Linked DNA regions of Homo sapiens: all the other regions are linked to region 1. The links come from fine-mapping of genetic effects on gene expression. A gene starts in region 1. Each other region holds a variant in brackets. All regions are shown on one strand. Distances are from middle to middle. Region 1 holds the start of SLC39A8 (solute carrier family 39 member 8). Region 2 overlaps BANK1 (B cell scaffold protein with ankyrin repeats 1). Region 3 overlaps SLC39A8 (solute carrier family 39 member 8). Region 4 overlaps SLC39A8 (solute carrier family 39 member 8).

Evidence for each region. PIP is the estimated chance that this variant, and not a neighbour inherited with it, causes the effect.
Region 2: its variant is the best candidate, but not a certain one, in a credible set for the expression of SLC39A8 in lung (GTEx, PIP 0.59).
Region 3: its variant is the best candidate, but not a certain one, in a credible set for the expression of SLC39A8 in monocytes after muramyl dipeptide (Kim-Hellmuth 2017, PIP 0.84).
Region 4: its variant is the best candidate, but not a certain one, in a credible set for the expression of SLC39A8 in subcutaneous fat (TwinsUK, PIP 0.60).

What each region holds. Positions count from the first base shown.
Region 1 is chr4:102,342,390-102,347,683 of GRCh38, forward strand. It overlaps SLC39A8 (solute carrier family 39 member 8), which reads right to left and starts at 3,093. Exons shown (of 9, transcript NM_001135146.2): 1 at 2,956-3,093; 2 at 2,055-2,526. The coding sequence starts at 2,273. RefSeq lists enhancers at 1,616-1,675, 3,576-3,625 and a silencer at 2,146-2,395.
Region 2 is chr4:101,965,712-101,971,005 of GRCh38, forward strand. All of the region lies in intron 7 of BANK1 (B cell scaffold protein with ankyrin repeats 1), which reads left to right. Among named protein-coding and RNA genes, the nearest start is that of BANK1, 180 kb to the left of the region's middle. The variant G/A (reference allele first, on the strand shown) is at 2,852.
Region 3 is chr4:102,280,463-102,285,756 of GRCh38, forward strand. The region is part of intron 6 of SLC39A8 (solute carrier family 39 member 8); the gene reads right to left. Among named protein-coding and RNA genes, the nearest start is that of SLC39A8, 62 kb to the right of the region's middle. The variant A/G (reference allele first, on the strand shown) is at 2,296.
Region 4 is chr4:102,309,657-102,314,950 of GRCh38, forward strand. All of the region lies in intron 3 of SLC39A8 (solute carrier family 39 member 8), which reads right to left. Among named protein-coding and RNA genes, the nearest start is that of SLC39A8, 33 kb to the right of the region's middle. The variant C/A (reference allele first, on the strand shown) is at 2,394.

The DNA.
Region 1 (5,294 bases):
CTGGAAGGCTGAGGCAGGAGAATTGCTTGAACCCAGAGGGGGAGGTTGTGGTGAACTGAGATCGTGCCATTGCACTCCAGCCTGAGCAACAAGAGTAAAACTCAGTCTCAAAAAAAAAGCAAGAACATCAAAGAGATGTTTGTTAGGCTTATTAAGTGGTAAATTTTCCTTGGCTTCCTTTTCTTTCCAAGGTAATTATGGGCTTCTTCCTGTCTCTTTTTGATGCCCACAGAGGCCATAATGAGGGCAGTTAAATATGCAAACATGAGAATGAGAAAACAGGTGTCAAGATACATATAATTTTACCTATTGAGACATCCTGCCTGCTAATAAACAGAGAATCGTATTACTGGTACACTTAACCAATTTTCCTAAATAATTTAGGCATGTTTTCCAATGTCTTTGCAAAGGTGATGTGGGGAGGTCTTTTGCCCCTTTAAAATTCATCAACACCTCCAGACACTGCAAGATAAGGAGGTCATGCAAGTCAAAACAATGTGTGGGCTACAGATATGCAGCTTCAAGTCAATCCTCTAAACTTCTTTCCAAGCACGTGACCATACCTACCTGGAAATACTGGAGTCAGCTCAGTTGTTTCCCCTATTTGATAAGAAAAGAATGCAACTAGCCAGCAAACACTTTATTTTCTTAAATATTAGCATAATTTGTGGGCATTTCCATTTTTCCAACACATCATTTCTCAGATATTACCCCAGATAAAATACCATGCCCAGAACTGGAATTATAGACAATTTACTAAAGAACATGCATAAGGGGACCACAAAACCCTTCTAGATCAAAGAGAGACCACCTCTGACATGCCATGGCATCAGAAAGTTCTACTTTTCTTAAGAGCCATATACTTTAATTGTGGTAAGATATTTCTAACAAAAAGATCAATCTACGTATAATGTTATTAACATGGAATTTATTTGATTACAGTTTCCCTAACTGTAATCTAAAGTCATATTCATTAGGAAACGCCAAATTTCCAAGAGCAGAGTATAATATGCAGCATTTCCCAAACATCTTGGACCCCAAAAACTTCTTGTAACAAACTAACATCGTCCAAAAATGACAAACGATATGGAAAATACCGTATTCTACCCTCCAATATCAGCTGTCAGTGGGACAGGAGTAAAGGAAAACAAGTCAAAGCACTGAGTTAACTGAGTTTTAAAAGACGGAGAGCAGTTTTGGAAGGATGCAGAAACTACACTTTGTCTACTTAACAATTTTAAGAACTACCCAATCACAGAGTATTTATTATAGAAATAATTAGGAATAATTTGATTTTATGTTTACAAAGAGGTATGATGTTTAACTGCTCCTACGTAGTTTGAAGCTTGTTCTTAAACCCAAGGTATTGCCAAATGCCTAGTAGTACCCTGTTTATTACTGAAAAAATTTTTTTAATCATTTTGGATAAATACTAGAATCAAATATTTGACCTGACATATGACAAGGAACTAACAATATAAGCCTAGTCTACCACCATCTGGATGACCAAATTAGAATCTTAGTCTCAAGGCCGCCCCTGTTTCAGCCCTGAATGCCTCATGTAATGTACACAGGAGCCAGAACTACATTATATCTCGTTTTCAAATAGCACTGGTTACGCACCGGGCAACTGTTAACCAGGGTGGCATGTGATAATCTTCCTTGCTAACCTTGTAGGAAGTGTGCGAGCCGTTATCTTTCTGGCAAGATTTAAGTAACTCATTCCTATCTAAAAAGCATCTGTTAAAGTGGCGTCACACCCTCAACTACTTCATAAAGTTTTCTATAAAATGTTAAAATCACCAGAGTCGGACCTCTCAGTTCATCAGGCGTAAAACTGCAGTTTCCGGCTGCCAAATCCCTTAACAACGTTAACCTTTTAATCCTTCAGCCTCGTCTAGTGAAAAGCAAGTGTCACCAGATACCGCCTTCTACTTGAGAAATATAACAAGATTCTTTCTCCTGCACTTTTCCCAAATAAAAACGGCTCATATACAAAGTGAAGTCTAGGGACACCCACAGTACGGAGGGCTGCCCGGACCTGGCGGCCTTACCTGGTTGAAGTGCAGCTGGCCAGGCTCCGGGACGCCCACGCGGGAGGCGGCTCCCATCTGCTCCAGCAAGTGCTGGAGCTGCGCCGCCGACAGGCTCAGATTCGCGCCGAACACGCTCAGCACATCCTCGCTGAAGGCTAGCCCTGGCCCCTCCGCCACTCCTCCGAGGCCGGCGGCCGCCAGCAACAGGAGCCCGGCCACCGCGCGACCCGGGGCCATCCTGGCCTGGGCTTCCCCTTGAGGGCCCGCGACGGGCTGCCGCGCAGAGGGACGCGCGCGGGCGCACTGGCGTCCTTGCCCAAGGGCGGGAGCGTCAGTGCTCGGCGCTGCTCCGAGTCAGAGGTGGCGCGGGACGCCCCTGGTTCTCCGACGCCTTCGAAAGAACAGCAGCTCGCGACCTGCGGGGCATTGAAGTGGCAGCGTAGCCGAGGGGAGCGATAGGCGGAGTGGGCCCCCCGGCCTCCTGGAGAGCCTGAGATAAAGAGGACAAAGGGGGACAGAGATAAAGGCCACCAGGGCACCAGCCGGCAGGCTCCAGAAACGCTGCGTGGCAGTAGCCCTCAAACGCCCGGCCGGGCATGGGGCCAGACGCCCCGGATCCGGGTTTGCAAACGCCCCAGGATTTGCGTACATATGCTCCTCCCGGATATAAAGCCCCAAACCACGCCACTTCTTAGGAAAAACTAAAACCACACTAACTGTAGAACTCCACCTCCTCTTCCTGTCTTTCTGCTTTATTCTCTCCGCCGCAAACTTAGAAGTGAGACGTGCAGTCCCCAAGGAGCTGCAGAAAAGGGCTCTTCCGGAGTCCTGGGGATTGCGCGTTTAAAGGGGACCCTCCCTCTCCCCGGATCTTCTCTGAGCTTGGCAAGTTAATCGGAAGCACTCGCTGGCCTCTCACCTCTCCTATCTGTTTGTTTGTCTGTCTCTGCGTCTTTCTCTCTGCGTGTCAACGTAAGACTCGGTCTCTGGATCTCTCTCTCTTTCTGTCTCCCGCCCCCACAACCTCTGTATCTCTGACAGGTCCGCGGTGAAACTCCGCGATCCGCTCCGGCGCTCTTTACAAATAAGGGGAGGAGGGCCCTGTCCCCGCCTCCGTAGCACGTGGTGACCCATTTCCCCAGCCTGAACTCCCGCGCGCGTCCACGCCGGGGCGCAGGACCGCCGGCCTTCCCTCCGCGGGCGCTGCTCATTCCCAGCATCAGCCATGCCCTCTTCCCCACCCTCACTCCTGAGGGTTACCTGATGCCACCTCCGTGTCGGGGTCCCTAACTCCTCTCTGGTCTCGGGGACGCATGCATCTTTTCGTGATCTTGATGAAACCAACTTGCTGAAATGGAGCCTGGAGACCCTTGCATTGTCTACATAATTAACAGGAATTGCTTTTTTTTCTCACTTCTTAAAATCAGAGGAGAAAGAGGAAATCCAATGGTAGCGGTGGCGGGCTAGCTGAGCCAGCACTGCCCAAGCCGGCCCTTCCTGGCGGGATATCCGCAGATCAGAGGAATGTTTATTTGTTCATATGGGAGCTCAAGAAAAGCTGACTTAGGTGTGATGTCAACAGGTTTGTGTAAAGTGAGTGTGGTGTTTGAGGCAAAGTTTGTATCTGGTGGATATAGTGGTTCAAGTGTAAAGTGAAACCATGCTTCACTGTTAGATGGCTGTGAAAGGAAAATAAATCTTGAGACTTCAAAATCACCAAGCTAAAGGGAAACATCAAGAAGGGACCAGCTTAGGGCAAACCTGCCTGCCATTCTATTCAAATTCATCCCTCTGAGGCTCACCTGAGACAAATGCATATCTGATTGCTTTCTCTTCTCCATCGTTTATGCAAAAAATGCAGATTCACTGGGCCAGACTAAACTGTCTATTGAGTGGAAGGCTGATCATGGCCTCAAAAGAATGCAACCTTTTGTCTCTTGTCTATTATACTTCTAACCTGGAAGCCCCCACTTCCAATTGTCTCACCTTACTGGACTGAACCAATGTACATCTTACACATATTGATTGATGTCTCATGTCTCTCTAAAATATATAAAAGCAAACTGTACCCCCGACCACCTTGGGCACATGTCTCAGGACTTCCTGAGGCTGTGTCAGGGGCACATCCTTAACCTTGCCAAAATAAACTTTCTAAATTGACTGAGACCTGTCTCAGACATTTTGCATTCACGTGACTAAGGACAATAAAAAGAATACAAGATGCCGTTCTTGCCTTTCATCAGGAGAATGCACAGCCTCCTAAAATAGCACATTTTAAAGAGACATTAAGTCTAGACAAAGGGGAAAAGATGGGGAAAGGGAAAAAATCTTAATCTTAGAAGAGGAACCTAAAGACATAACTGCAGAAGAAAGAGACAGGTAGAGAACATTCCCAGAGGCTAAGGATCTAGGCAGACGAAGCTGAAGGATTGTCATATGGAAGAAGGTTTAACTATATTATATCTAACTTCAGAGGACAGAAGGCAGCAGTCATGGGGCAAAGTCACCCAGAGGAAGGTTTCTGTGGAATTATAAGGCATGGCTGCCTTGGAAGATAGTGATTTCTCCATGATCAAAAGTGATTCAAATCAACAGATCCTGGGTGACCGCCTTTAGTAGGTGGTAGGAGGATTCATGCCTGAAGGGAGATGAACTAAATGATCTTAATACTGTGCTCTTTCCAATTATAAAATCTACGTATTTGTTAATAATAATTTACAGAATTATGTTGATGCTAAAAGGGCAAATATTTCATCTAAGGGCCAGAAGTAAGTTAATATCACAGTTGTCCTCTTAAATCACTCAGCTCGTGGGACTCTTCAAGCCTTTCATTGGATTTTAAAATATAGTTTGTTGCCTATTTTTCCTTTGGACCTCCGTGATGCAAAATGATTTTTGGAAATTAATGAATGCTCTAAATGGCTAATCTATACCCAGCAAGTTGTTTATTTCCAGCTTTTCTAAAACTAAATTTGTCCATAAAGTGTTAGATTTTAACAAATATAAAAGGTTTTTAAAAATACAAATCTTGGCTGGGCACTGTGGCTCACGCCTGTAATCTCAGCACTTTGGGAGAATAAGGTGGGCAGATAGCTTGAGATCAGGAGTTCAGACCAACCTGGCCAACATGTAAAAACCCTGTGTCTACTAAAAGTACAAAAATTAGCCAGGCATGGTGGCGCACGCTTGTAATCCTTGCTACTCGGGAGGCTGAGGCATGAAAATCGCTTGAACCTAGGAGACAGAGGTTGCAGTGAG
Region 2 (5,294 bases), 380 kb before region 1:
TCATATTAGTTGGACATTCACTGAGGTAGGCCTAGATGCTTGGGTACCACTGAGTTTTCTGTTTGCCAATATGTCATATATATTCCAGTAATTCCCAGTTGTTGTACTGATGTAGCCTTTCTTCAGGAATTTTCATTTGATAATAGTGTGAAACATGCTAAACTAGGCACTTTGAACTAATTCATAGCCTTATGATATTCAGGAAGCTTTGATAATCCTCTTGTCCCCATGGGCAATGTCTGTTCACTTTGTGGCTTGCTGCTTAACCAAACCCAAATGAAGTTATCAACATAAAATGCCATGAGAACATTTGTTTTATCAGAAGCCTTTCCTAACATAAGGTTACTGTTCTTACTCATTTGTTCTTCTGTTCTATTAGATTGGCTTATTGATTTTTAAAAAACAAATTTATTTTTTGTGAACCACTTCAAGGAGGCTATTCAAACACAGTATCTGTAACCATTTCCTTAATGGCTTATGCTACTTTTCCTTTTTCTAACAAACATTTTCTCCATCTTCCCCTCCTCTTCCTTCTTCCTTTTTGCAAAATAGAGGACAAGATTTAGGGAAGCTTTTAAAAAATACCTGATTTTGGTTTTAGAAAATTTTTATTAAGCCTCCTTTCAATGCCAGGGAGCAAGGCATTGGTTTGTTATCTATGAAAATAATAGTTGGACCACAAGTGTGTCATTTGATTGTCAATAATAATAATAATAAATTATTGAATCTGGTTGTGATAGACATCTTGGAGAGTAGTTAATATAGAGTATGGTTAGTGCAATTTTTGAGTTTTTACAGGCTTCTAAAAGGGTAAAGAGGAAAAAAGCAAGTAGCTTGCCATTTGTTTATCAAGGACTTATGCCTTTTAATTCAAAGATAATTAATTAGACTTTGATTTAGAAATAGATTGGAACCTTAAATTATCGTTGACTATTGCTGCTCTCAGGCACATTTCAAACTATCAGCCACCTCATGCCTTGGCTCCCAAGTGAGAATAAATCACATAAAGACAACTTCAAGGATAAGAAATATTTACCATTGGCCAGGATGAGAGACTTGGGATTTGTGGGCTTAAGACCCATAGTCAGCTCAGGAAGCAGCATATCTTAGCCTAATGTTGGTAACACCTGGATTTCAGTACATCTGACTCCCACCCAAGGAGGCTGCTGAATACACAGCTTTTCTGTGACAAACTTTCTCTAAATCAGAATAACAGTGCTTATTCATCCAGAAGGGAAATTATTAAAAGTTGTCACAAGGAAAACAAACATTTCCCAAGTGTCCTAAATGAACCAGAAAGCATTCAAGATAGTTTTACTCGTTAGTCCAATTTATTAATCGTTAATTGAGCACTTACTGTATTCAAGGTAATACGCGTACTGCTTTTAGGAGAAATAAATGAGTGGAACTGAAATGTTGCCATCAAAGGGGTCGCAGTTAAATGGGAGTCATGTTTTCTAAGCAATTACTGTGTGTGACACTGTTTTGTCTTTTGCATGTGTCAACTAATTTATTCTAACAATAGTCATATGACATCAGTACTATTGCAATTCTCATTTTATAGATGAGGGAACTGAGACATAGACAGTCCAAGAAAATTGCAAAGGATATTAAAAAATTTAGATCCAGGATTCATGCCCAAGTTTATGGCTCCAGAATCCACATCACAGTCTGTTCTGTCTCTAGAGAAAGAATTATAATGGGATGGTGTCTGTGTAGAAAACTTGAAAGGTACAGAGCAGCACATAAAAGAGAATAATAGATTTAAACAAATTGAGAAAGGGGGTGTGGAATAGGTATTTAGAGAAAATAAATATATGGGAAGTTCAGACAAAATTACATTCAATTCAATAAACCCACCAGGTCTCTGTAATTTATACTAACTTTGTCGCTTTTTTTTACTGAAAAAACGATGCTCTGAAGGATTTAAGGTCACACAGCTCATATATAGCAGAATCAGGTTTCATATCCCAGACTTTGTGAATTCCACTCTTACATGCTTCTTCTTTTGGATTAAACCTTAACTTAATTATTACTCCCAAGAAAGGACCAATCTGAAGTAGCAAGTATAAAAGGTAACATGGGAAATAAAAAGAAGAAGAGTATTAGAAGAAGTGAGGTTGAAATTAAACAGCCATATGGAAACAAAGGACTTTTAGGATGACTCAGAATAAGATTCAACAGCATAAAACTTAACTGTTTTCAATCAACCAACTGCAGTAACATAGAATTAGAAGAAACAAGAGATGGGAAAACTCTGACCAAGTCTTGGCATAGAAGGAACAGGAATCTCTAGTAAGTGAGGGAAAGCATATTGGTCTCTGAAGGAGGGAAGAAAATGTGCACAGAAAAGTGAACAATGATTTCTTATCCATGGAAGGTACCCACAGATGATAAGAAGAAATGCCCACACAGGAGGCTACAGAGGGGAGAGGGCGGGGCATTAGTTACTCATTGAGTCTTACGTCAAAAGATTTATTTACTGTAATTTAGATTGTCAGCAAGAAATAGCTTGATTTAACCTTTGGGAAGGGAATGTTATATGACAAATGTTAAAATAAATATATAAGGAAGCCACAAAATTGCTGGGAGGCATTTGCAGAGAAACTGTTAAACAGCCACAGGACAAAAATGGCATATTCAATGTAGGCATAGAAGATAAAGAACATTGTGATATGTCTGCTGAAATGGCACTCTAATATTTCAGACTGTCCAAAGGAAGTTTCAGATAGATTTGGGTCTACATAGAAAAATTCAAGTGTGAAGTAGAGTTGTACAGAAAACTTTTTTTTTTCTAGTGTCTGAAATGTGGTCTCAAAGGGAGGTGTAGAGAGGAGAGTAACAATGCCCC[G/A]TTGGTTGCAGTTAGAGGGGCAGACAAGTAAGAAGGTGATGGGTGGGGCTCTGCTCCCAGAGAACGAAAGTACAAGGGCACTGCTGAAGAAGGAAATGAGGCCAATTGAAATGTGAAATGAAATGTTTTAAAACTGCAGGGGACTACAGAGAAAAAGATAAAAATTAGCAAGAATTCTTCCCTCATGTATCATACAAATGTTAGAAAATTTCTTATGCAGGAGGTGGAGAGAGGGAAATCCAAACAAATAGATACCTTACTCCTGAGAAGAAAACAGAAAAGTTGACTGCAAAATAATGAAAGACTATTTTGAACATGATGTGATGCTAAAATGTTATTGAGAATGGGAACACCCAAAGGTGATGGTGGTAATACAGTCTAGATGAGAAACCATGTCCCTTTCCCAGACCTTTGTTAGTTTCGGGTTTCAGAAAACAAAGAATGCTGTTGTGAGATAATGGCTGAGATCTGAGCTCATTGGAAGGAGAGTCGTCTCTACCATAGACTCTTCTCAGTATGCTTTAGTATGACTTGGAGCTTCTTGTATTTGATAAAGATTGGATGCTGTGCCTCCTCTGGGAATCAGATCAAAACACAGAGAACAGGGTCAGACCAGAGTCCTGAACTATAGCTTTCTCTATACCTGACCTTGAAGAAATGGAAAAGCAAAGATCTTTTTTTTAAAAAAATCAAACTAGAAAGCGAAGTCATCTGAAATACTTAAGGAGTTCATACTATACCATTAGCTATTATAAGTGAAATGGGAAGGAAATTGTGTCTCTGGCTAATGAAAATGCCTAGGCAACTAATTATGAATTAGTTTAAAAGTTTGCATAATGAGAAACACTTGATAAAAGTGAAGTTTCAGATATTATTTGATTAATGTGCATAGCCAAAAGAGTCTTGATAAATGTTACATAAACTAAGAAAAATTTTGGTTAGTTATTAAAAGTTTTGGTAATTTTATAACAACACACTGCCTTCCATTCCAAAGTAAAATATTTCCAAATCCCTAAAAGTTTCTTTGTAAAAAAAAAAGTTTACTGAGGAAAATATTTATTTGAATAAAAAATGACCCTCTCACTAAATTTGCTGTCCAAATGTATTTGGGATAAGTATACATGTGCAGATGATGTCTAGAGAATTATAGGATGAATGAAATGGACACCCTATTTGTTACTATGGATAGACTGGAAACCAATCTTCCTCAGCAGGGAGAGTAGTGGTGTTCCCCCGCTCCACACCAGCAAAGCAAATGGTAGGAGACCATTTCAGATTTCCTCTTTTCAGGCTAATTTTCAAATAAAATTAATATAATCAGAGATCAGTAAAATTATTTATTATTTTCCAATGAAGGCTTCCTATAGGGAGTGTGTATTTAGGACCCATTATTTGTACAGAATGGTTTTCAATGCCACAATAGTTTCAATCAATAAGATACCTGTTTTGCCTCTGCAAAGTCAGTAAGACAGTCTTGAGTTTTAAAGGATTTTACCAGCTGCTTGATCTTGGGTAAGTTATTTCACCTCTCTAATCCTCTGTTTCCTCCTCTAAGTTCCCATCATTCCAGCTGACTCTAGGTTGAACTTTTTATTGAATTCCTTCTGCGTGTCAGGCACTGTTATCCCAGAGGACTGTTGTGAAGATTCGAGGCGCTGGCGCATAGTACGGATTCAATAGGTAGCTACTATTACCATGGATATTGTTATAGTTAAGCAATTGAGACGAGTGTCAGAGTAATGCAGACAATAAATGGAAAGTTGAGGAAAGAAAGTTTGGCAATTGCATAATGAACTATGGTTTGAATATTTAGGAATTACCTGTAAGAATCAGAAGTGGGAAAGTTAAAGTAACTGTGAAAAAGTTTCAGAAATGAGAAATCCCCAATTTCTTTCATCAATTTCTTTCATTTTATTCTGTCTTTGTCCTATCACCACCACTCTCCTGGAGGGGAGAGGAAGCAACAACAACCAAACAGCAAACAAGCTTGGACGTAAGATACTCTTAACTTTGTTTCAGATGAACATTCACTTTAGGAAAGTCGTGTTAGCCTGCACAGCTTGGCATGATAATTAAATAGAAAATGAGAAAGGCTGCAGTGGATGTCAGCTCACTCACTCATAGCCTTCCAGCCAGTCTCCACAGTCCCCACTGGGAAATCTGTCATGACCCTGTCATGCTCCCCAGATAGATGTTTGCTTAGAGAAAACCAAACATCTGATAAGGGAAGATCAGTAGAATCTGGTTTTATGTTCCCTAGGGTCAACCCAGAGTGAAATATAAGAAGTAAACATGATTTCCTTAGGATTTCAGCTATGATCATTTAAAAATTTTCTGTTTAGCAGGATTCTAAACATACAGCCCCAAGTAACTGGCCCGTTGTTTGTCACACTTGTGTCATAGCGTGCAGGCGTGTAATGAGGCTTCACAGATGTGCTGCCAA
Region 3 (5,294 bases), 62 kb before region 1:
TACATAGACATGAATATATTAAAAAGAGTTAAACGCATTCTGTAAACATAAAGTTTTGATAGGCTTTGCTTTCATTACTAGGTTTTCCAGTGATAAATGTTTGTATTTTATAGCTGGTGATTACTTGGTCCTTCTCCTTACCTGAAAAGTCAGCTAACTACCAAAATGAAGCTTCACATGAGAAAAGAGAAATTATTTATCCTTTAATGCATGTAACCAAATATAATTCAAATGCACTTACCTTCCAGTCATTCAGTTTCAGGTAAAGCTCAAAACTATTTCCAAAACTCTCTTTGCTAATTAAAATAACCATTAACAAGAAAATAACAATTTCTAGAAACCTCGCAAGTTGTTTCCTGTCTCTCCAATCCTGTGGAATGTGAGTAAAGTTGTTTTGGTCTTTAGTAGTTTAATTAATAATCAGTTATTTTCAGTTTGGGACCATAGCATTTTTACTGCCTTGAAAAGAACAATTTAGGAGAAACCTGAGAGGTTTTCAAGAAATCTGCTACTTTGCCAATGGAATCTAAAGTAAATAATAGTTAAATATTTATGGTTATCCTAATGGACTATTTATACCACTCTAAAAGGCTGCTTACTGTTGCTACAGATGAGGATGGCATTAATGCACTGGTACATTCAGGACACAGGATATCATTTCTTATAAAAAGCCCATAAAATGTACCTCCCCGCCTACACAACTCTCATTCTTACTGCAACATCTTAAAGGGATTCAGGAGGCACCAGGAAATTGTTTAAATTTCAATGTAAGTTGGAGAAATCAGTTGCTAGGATCCTTAAAAGTAGTGTTTCCAAAATATAGGAATATCTACACTGATCAGCCTCAAGGCTTTCAGAATAATTCATATGAGAAAACAGGGGTAGGATGGGATGCCGTGGAGAAACCAACCCCGTGCAGCAGCTGCCTGTCATGTCTTAACATTTGACATGAATTACATCAAGAACTGAAATATTCAAGATCCCACTCAATATACTCCATGTGACTCACCTGCAAAAAAAGAGAGACTGCTTTCTGTGGCAGAGAAGATCTAGAAACACACGGTCAAGGAGCTTAGGGAAAGTGGTAAGAGGCAAAGAAATAGATGAGAAGAGAGATTAGAGCCAGTGGTAACTGCAACCACCATGACAGAACAGGCACTTAGGACCAAGTGGGGGTGATAAGGAATAGGCAAGGTGCCAACAGAGAGACAAATATAAAGCTATTCTCTGCAAGGGGCAACTGGCACCCTGGTTTATATTTCAATAGTTCAGAAAAACAGAGGCTGTCTCTACTCTGTACATGGAGCGTGAGAAGTAGGAGCCACACAAGATAAGGGTACCAGGACCACATTCCCTCTGAAAGCTGTCACTGTGCCACTCTAAAGATGTGCTGACCCGTTTAAGAAAAGAAGAATCGGGCATGAAATATACAGAATACACCACTGGAGCACAGAGCAGTAGTGATAATAATATTTATAGTAATAACAGAGCCTCCTGCCGCATTCTCACTATGCTCCTGGTACTGTCCTACGCATTTTACATATACCATCGTTTAATCTTCACAACTGCCCTATATAGATATTATCCCCATTTTACAAATGAGGGAACTGAGGTATAGAAAGGTTAGGTAAATTAACCAAAGTCATACCTCTAGAAATGTGCAGAAACAGGATTTGAGCCTCCATGCCAAAGAAGCTAAGCCTGTGATCCCCAGGAGATACAGGATTTTATTTTCTGTGTTGTTGGTTCCTGTTCACCCAGAATGTAGTAGCACTGTAGGCACTCAGTGAGTGTTTGTTGACTAAATAAATGTGTAGTAATATTAAAAGTACATCTTCTCTCATGACATGTTCACAAATCATTGTCCCATGAAGCATGTATTCCAGTCTTTCCAAAGAGCAAACACATGGACATTTATGCACAACATGGAAAGGATGTGCATAAAAAAAGTTCATTAATCAATTCCAAATTGGTTCACCAATATAACATAAAATTCAGTGCAGAGATGCTTTTGTTGTTTGTTTGCCAATTCTTAGCTACTGAGAGTTGAAGAACTGGATTAAAATCTCCTGGCAGGACAAGATGTTTTTTTCCTTTTTGGCCGAGAATTTAGCGTTTAATGGGTGTTCAATAAATATTATTTTTAATTAAATGGTGGGGGGGGGTGCTGAATTAAGTAGAGAAATGAAATATCAAAATACATTTCAGTCAATGGATCTCAGAGGCTTCCTCCTCTATTCTAGTGATCAAGGCAGTTTTTTGTTTGTTTGTTTGTTTGTTTTGAGACGGAGTCCC[A/G]CTCTGTCGTCCAGGCTGGAAGGCAGTGACGCAATCTTGGCTCACTGCAATTTCTGCCTCCCCGGTTCAAGCGATTCTCTTGCCTCAGCCTCCCAAGTAGCTGGGACTACAGGTGCGTGCCACCATGCCTGGCTAATTTTTTGTATTTTTAGTAGAGACAGGGTTTCACCGTGTTAGCCGGGATGGTCTCGATCTCTTGACCTCATGATCCACCTGCCTCAGCCTCCCAAAGTGCTGGGATTACAGGCGTGAGCCACCACACCCAGCCCTCAAGGCAGAAGACTTTTATTGGCAACCATCTTGCATCTAACTTTGTGGACTTACATATTTTTTCAGAAGATGGTTTGGAAAGGGAGGGCATAAAAGTAAGAATATTAGCAATGAAAGCAGATAACCTGTTAAAGATTTATTGTTTGCAAGATGCTTTTCTAAATGCCTGTGATAAGTACATCATCCTGATTACAGAGGAAATAAATGAGGACACTGGAAGAAGGGACTTGCCCAAAACGACACAGCTAGAAAATGGGAAAGTCAGGATTTGTGCCCAGACTATTTGACTCCTAAGCCTATGCAATAAGAGGTCAAGATACTGCTCAAGAGAATTGAGTTTTTCAGATGAGGAATTTCTGAATTAAGTAGCTTGTTGCTATAAGGTAAGAAATTATTATTTTATTGCTGTTTGCCAGTCTCCATCCTGGAAGGTGGAGTACCTCCAGGATTCAAGTACCTCTGGTTTTGAGTAGAAGACACTGAACTAATGTGCTGAGGTGTTCTGAGGATTGCTAACACTTCACACACAATTAAAATAATACTTCCAATTGTTGAGGAGAAAAAAAACACCATCCTAGAGCTTTCAAATCCACTACATATAATCTACTGTTTACAGATTGCAAAAACTGATTGCAAAAGACAGTTGTTTTCCTGACTGACCCGTTCTTAGTTTATAACATTTAATAAAATGTAATTTTGGAGCCAATGTCTTGTATTATTAACACTGTTTAAGTGTTAGAACACAGGAATGCTTACTTTGAAGAAGAATTTCTATCTAGAATGTTTTCCAATGTCATTTTATACAAGCATCCACTGTGCCTACCTACTCTGTTCATCTTTCTGTTCCTAAAACCCACTGAACTGTTTCCTACCATAGAGATTTCTCACTGGCTGTTTCCTCAGCCATAATATTATTCTCTCGGATATTCACATGGATGGTTCCTTCTTACAATTCTGATTTTAACTTAAATGTGTTCTCCTTGAGGAAGTCATCCCTGACCACCCACACTAACATAGTGACCCAGACATCATCATATCACATTTTAATTCCCTGCAGGACATTTTAAAATTTATTTTTGTATTTTATGTGTATAAATGTATGGGGTACAACTATAATTTTGTTACATGTATAGATTGAGTAGTGGTGATGTCAGGGTATCCATCACCCAAATAAAGTATATTGTACCCATTAAGTAATATCTTATCATGCACCCTCTTCCCTCCTGCTCACCCTTCTGAATCTCCATTGTCTATCATTCCATATTCTATGTCCACATGTACACATTAGTTAGCTCCTACTTATAAGTGCCTGCATGGCATTTGTAACTCTATGATGTTGGGCTGTGTGTCCCACTAGAATGAACCAGAATGGCAGAGCGCATGAACATTTTCTGTCTAGTTTGTCATGGAATTTCTAAGGTGTAGAGCAGAGCTTGGCACTTGGCAGGTGATCACTGAATAGATGAGAAGAAAATAAATGATGAAATGAATGACTGAATACCATCTTCCTACGCTTTAATATAGCATCACTGATTTAATGTATGGACCAGGATATCATTCAGAATATAAAATGTTGTCACAAAAGTAGCCTGATATATCACAGAGGCCCAGTTTAAGATTGCCATTATTGTTTTAATATAAAAGTTACATGATTCTGGGATTTTGATCAAAGTCACAAACACTATAAAAATTACAAAAAAAATACAGACTATTTTTGCAAAAGTGATGTTTGTCCAGAAAAGAATGTTTGAGATTCTACTTTCTAAATGGAAATAATCTCTAGATTTGGGTGTTTGTTTGCAACCCAGGAAACTATAATGATGGCTGATCCCTCACTTATTTTTTCCAATATATATTTTGTAACCTGGTAATAGAGGAGGATACACTAGAAAGCATAAGACCAGAGGCCGGAATGTCTTATGGAACCCTCCAATGTAATCTCTATTGGTGTTTCCTCTGCTGCTAAACGTTTCTGACTTTTATCCACTTTCACTAAGTTGGTATAAAGGTTCGATAAAGTCATGTTCATTAAGCACTTTGATATTCCTAAGTAGAAAGAGATTCAGTAAAATAAAGTCTGTTCTTTTATTTTACTTTTAATGTTCTGATACCTGATAACAAATAAAAAGTAATAATACCTTAATCACTTCGAAAAAGAATTAGGCTCACACATTGGTCTCTCTTTCTACTTATTAGGATTCAAAACTTCTATAATAATACTTCTAAATAAATTGAGCCAATAATTAGCATGGAGAGCAAAGTTAAAGGCAGGAGAATGTCACCACTTAATTTAAATAAATGAAGAGTTATTAATTGAATTGAGAGCCTTAGAATGGGACTGAAATTCTCTATCTAAGAAGCAGACATATAGTAGAATCAAATTTCACTACCTAATCAATGCCCTAACTCTAACCCTTAATACTTTTATTAAGAGTCAGCACTTAAATTGTTCTTCAAATATCTTCAATTCTTTTTTTATTCACTAAGATTATTAGTGAAGTATTAATAGTTATAAAAGTGAAATTTGTTATCTGGAAATTTACCTCAGACACAAAACTGAATAGATATGATTGTAGAGACAAATAAATATTATAGATGAGGGTGTGTGTGTGTGTGTGTGCATGTGTGTATGTGTGCATGAGCCAGTCTGCTAATTACTATATAATATAGTAATGTCAACCTCAAAAAGCAGTTTGGCAAGACCACACTTCATTTACAGGATGCATTAG
Region 4 (5,294 bases), 33 kb before region 1:
AAATTAAAAGGCAAAGAAATTGTTAAGTGCCAATAGAAGCAAAGCCACATGCACATGTTAAACTCATCAGCTTCCCTGCAAACACCTGTTCCATTACCCTTGTTCACTACCTACATAAATAACAGGAACAGTAGGATCAATTTCAGTTTTTCACTTTCCACCAATTAATTCCATAGACAACTGGTGATCAAACCCTACCAGTTCTGCTTCAGGCATCTCTCACCTCTAGCCTCTCCATCCTCATTGCCAGTGGTCTTGAAGTCAGACCCTCATCACCTCTCACTCCCTCATCTTATATAACATGACAGTTATCGATCTGGTGCCCCTCCTACTAGCTGACATGGCCTACAGACTTATACTAAATCACAAAAGTGATCATCTCATGCCCCCATTTGAAATCGCCCCTCATAAACTGACCCTTGCACAGCCTCTCCAGTGTTATTTACCCCCTTCTCAACATGGCCTTTACCCAAACACTATGTTTTCCCAACCGAGCTTTACCTTTACACTGTGGTTCTCTGTCTGAAAACACTTTCCTATCTTCCTTGCCTAAGAAAGTCATACGTGGCCTTCCAAGCCAACACAAAGATCTCCTCTATGAAGCTTCCCTGCTCTCCAGGCAGTACTCCCTGGCTGGTCAGGATTCCCATTACTCTTTGTTCACTTACCACTTCTTGTGTGCTACAGTAATTTTATCACTGATATATTTGCCTACATCATATAAACTGTGTGATTCTCAATGAGAAGGGCTATGTTTTATTCATCCTCAGTGCCTAGAAAATTGTCCACGAAAAAGCACACATTCCTTGCTGAATGAATTGATAAATTCCCCATTTCAAGGTGCAGCAGAACTCTGTCAAAAAGAAATACCAATCGATCTGCTTATCCAACTTTCTAACTTTCTTTGCCCTTGCACATTTATCAGCACAACTTGGGGGATGGTGGGAGTGTAATTCATCACATTCTAAGCACACTGCATAGCTTCCCCTTCTTGTATTGTTAGAACATCATTCAGAAAAAAATGTCTGGAGTTTCCATTCAACTGAAGCACTTTCCACTTAACTGAAGCACCAAAAGTATACATTAGTATGAATCTATTCCTTGGACATCTCCATATATACGTGGGACTTTCTCAAACGATCTGTTTCAGAGAGGGACCAGTCTCCTTATAAGTGAACCCTGAAAGATTTTAATAGATTTCAAAGAAATACAGTCAGGATAGTTTACATTTATTGACTGTCCACTGTGTAAGATTCTTCTAAGAACTTTACCTATTTTAACTCATTTAATTCTCACAACAACCCTATGAGATAGGTGCTGCTATTTTTCCCATTTTAATAGTGAGGAAATATGGTTCTATTATGATACCCATTTTGCAGACCTGCATACAGCCCAGGCTTCAATTTTTGCCTGGCCCCATTTAACTGTGAAACTGTATAGAATGGTGTTTAACAGTGTGAACTCTGGAGCCAGAGGATTTGTGTTCAAATCCCAGCTCATCCCCTCACTGGCATCATAGGTTGGTTCCTTGACTTCCCTAAGTTTCAGTTTTCTCATATTTAAAATGCAGATTAAAATAGCTCCTATTTCATAGAGTTATTACAAGAATAAAATAAAACCAGTTAATGCTGTCCCTGGAATATAGCAAGCCTTTAATAAATGTTGATTACAATTATGTTTAAAAAATTAGTAAGTAGACCATGATATAAATGTTAGTTCATTTAATTCACTGTTACTCAGTGAAAAGAAGAACAAACTAAGAATCAGGAGCTCTCATTTCACCTTAGGTACGACACCTACAAGAAGCCACTTAACCTCTCTGGAACTTGGACTTACATCACTAGTTGTATTACAGAGTTGGACAATATGATCTCCAAGGATGCTTCAATTAATATTCTTTATTTTATCTACTATATGAATTAAATATGATTCTGCAACTTCATCAAAAAGTGAGGCAATTTCAGACCATTAAATTATTACTAAAATGCAATTAATTTCTCTCCTAGAGAATTTAACTTATCATCAGTTTACTGTACTCATCAATATCATTTTATAAAGCACATGAAATACTTTCAAAAATAAAATGTGAGGCCTCTGAGAAATTTTACTGTCTACCCACTGAAATGTCAACATAAATGTATTCAAATTTTTGTATCATTTGGATTGTTTTTATGTTGATTTTTTATTGCTTTGGATGAGCTAAAGACTTGACTCTTCATTAAGTGAAAAGTTATATGAAAAATCCAGTGCATTTAATTATTTTAAAATGTTTTTCTTAGTGAGAAAAACAATAGGATAACACAGGGGCCAGGGAATGTGGTGAACCTATGAACACATGTATAAGAACAAAGACATTCTTCTTCCTCTGTGCCAGGCATTGTTCTAGGCACTTA[C/A]GTATATTAACTCATTTGATACTCCCAACAATTCTATAAAGGTACTATTAAAGTAACTGACCCATAGAGATATTAAATAATCATACAGCTGCACTAAAATAAAACAATCAAGATATCACATCAAAAAGGCAATAGAGTGCCAAGTTAAACATCTTAGATGAGTAGTAACAAGCACTCTACTAGTTTCCCTAAATTCCCCTGGAAACATTTCCATATCTTCTCCCCCCGATCCCACTCCACTCCAGCCTCATTTCAATTCCTAAGACAATATGCACCCTAAGAGGCATTTCTCTTTTTATTGGGTTATCTGTCTGAATATTTGGTGATCCCATAACTTAGAATTGCTGACTTTTCCATTTTATGACTTTGTAGTGTTGTCCCTAGAATTCTACCTCTCACACCCTGCTTCTGACTTCCCAGTTCTCAACTCCTGGTTCCTGAAACAGAGTAACCTAGTCAACTGGGGTTTAAAAATTACTTTTGAATATGAGTAATTAACTTGCACAGAGCAACTGGGGTTAAAAAATTACTTTTGAATATAAGTAAGTAACCTGCACAGAGTAGAGTATTTGCTTTTTCTGAAACCTCACTTCCTGTACCTAGAGTTATGCACGTTAGATGTAGTTATTTAACAGACCTAACTAACAGGCCTACCACAGCACCTAGGTACTGAATAATGTTCGAAGTACTTTACAAATATTAAGTCATTTAATCTTTACAGCAAGCCCATAAGAAAGGTACTATTTTAGATGAGGAAGCTGAGGCAGGAAAAGGTTAAAGTCATGTTCTCAACATAGCTGGAAAATTACAGAGCTGGGATTTGAGCCCAGGTAAACTGGCTTCAGAGTCTGTGCTTTTACTGTGCAATACTATTAGTCAAGGGTAGTATCCTAAAGCGTTTGCTGAATTTACTTTTTAATGTAAAGTGCAAACTGTATTAAACAGGCTTGTAGAAATATAAATATACTCTAGCAAAAATATTTGCTTGAACAATTAGCAATTCAAAATTACTAATATTTCAAAATTGAAATTACTGTTATTCACAAAATTGCAAATTATATTGATAAATGATACTTGGTGATTTCTATGCTTTGTATATATAAATACAGAATATCAATGAGAACATGGGTTCTGAAGCCAAGACAACCTGGGCTGAATCTGGCTCTACCACATGCAAGTTGTGTAACTTTGAGCAAATGACTTTAAACTCCCTGTACCTTTGTTTTCTTGGCTGTAAAATGGGAATAGTAGTGTCTACATCATATAGTTGCATGAAATTAATATATGAATATGTAAAGTACTTCAAAGAGTGCCTGTCATATAGTAAGTACCACAAAAGAATTGGCTATCATCATTGTTATTTTTGTCATTGTTGTTGTTATTTCTTTTATTCATATAGAGGGAGACTGAAGTGTACATGCACAAAGGAATCCGGAAATGAAAACAGGCACTTTCTTTGTTAAGTCTTCCCTTTTCTTCTCTATCTTTACTCTCTTTATCTATCTATACTCCTGTCAGATGAGCTCACTCAGAACAGCATCTTTATTTTTATTTTTTTGAGATGAGGTCTCCCTCTGCCACCCAGGCTGGAGTACAGTGGGGTAATCATAGGTCACTGCAGCCTTGACCTCCTATGTTCAAGTGATCCTCCTGCCTCAGCCTCCCAAGTAGCTAGGCCTACAGGTGCATGCCACCATGTCAGCTAATTCTTTTAACTTTTGTTGTGATGGGGTCTCACTATGTTTCCCAGGCTGGTGTTGAACTCCTGGCCTCAAGCAATCCTCTGCCTTGGCCTCCCAAAGTGCTGGGATTACAGGGATGAGTCACCGTGCCTAGCCCCAGTGTCTTTAAATATCATCTCTAGACTGGCAAATCCCCAGTCTTGACCTCTCCTCTGAAAGCAATCTCCTCTCCAAATGTCTGTGTGCCTTTGCCTACTGGACCTCCCTGTCTACCTGTGTATGTCAATGTCTCAAAGCAACCACGCCAAAAATTATATTCTTTATCCTCACCACTCCCTTCCTCTACAATAAAGGGCTCTTCCCAGTCTTCTCCATCCCGGGAAATGGTATAACGATCTCTCCGGTTTCTCTGGCTCAAGACTTGACTCATTGTTCCCTCTCCCACAATCAATCCAGGGCAAACCATTTAGCATGATCTCCAGGACTCATCCCGAATCTACTGCTTCTCCCCACTTCTACTTCCCCCACTTTAGTCCAAGTCCCCATCATCCTGGCATCAGCTCCTGGCAATCGCTTCCTGACCAATCACCCTGCTTCTACTCTTGCCCCATTACAATCTGTTCTTCAGATTGTAGGCAGGTGGAATGCCCTTTTAACAGATTTGAATGAGATCACAGCATTCCCCTGTTTAGAATGGTACAGTGACTTCACACTACATTCAGAATAAAACCCAATCAATTTACCACCTCCCGCAAGGCTTCCTCACCTGGTCTCCATCTCCCGCCAGGACATATATCCTTCTACCTTCCCCACCAACTCACTAGGCTCCAGACACATAGGAGCCTCTTGCTGCTCCTCACTCATGCCAAGCTCATTGCCAAGCTATGTTGGCTGTGCCCTCAATCAAGAATGCTCTTCACTAGAGACGACCTTGCTGTGGCCCTCTCCTTCTGCTCAGATGATACCTCATCAGAGAGGGCTTCCTTGATCTATCTAAGATGACACTCACCCACTATCACCTTCTATCCCTCACCTACTAATATTTTATTTTCTTCATAGCACCTTTCACTCTGAAACTATGTTGTTTATTTGCTTGTTTAAATTTGCTTGTTTAAATCTTCTCCACTACACTGTAAGCCCTAAAAAGACAGATAATTATTCTTCTTGTTTACCATTGACTCCTTAGTGCACAGAACAATACTTGGTATGTCGTTCAATA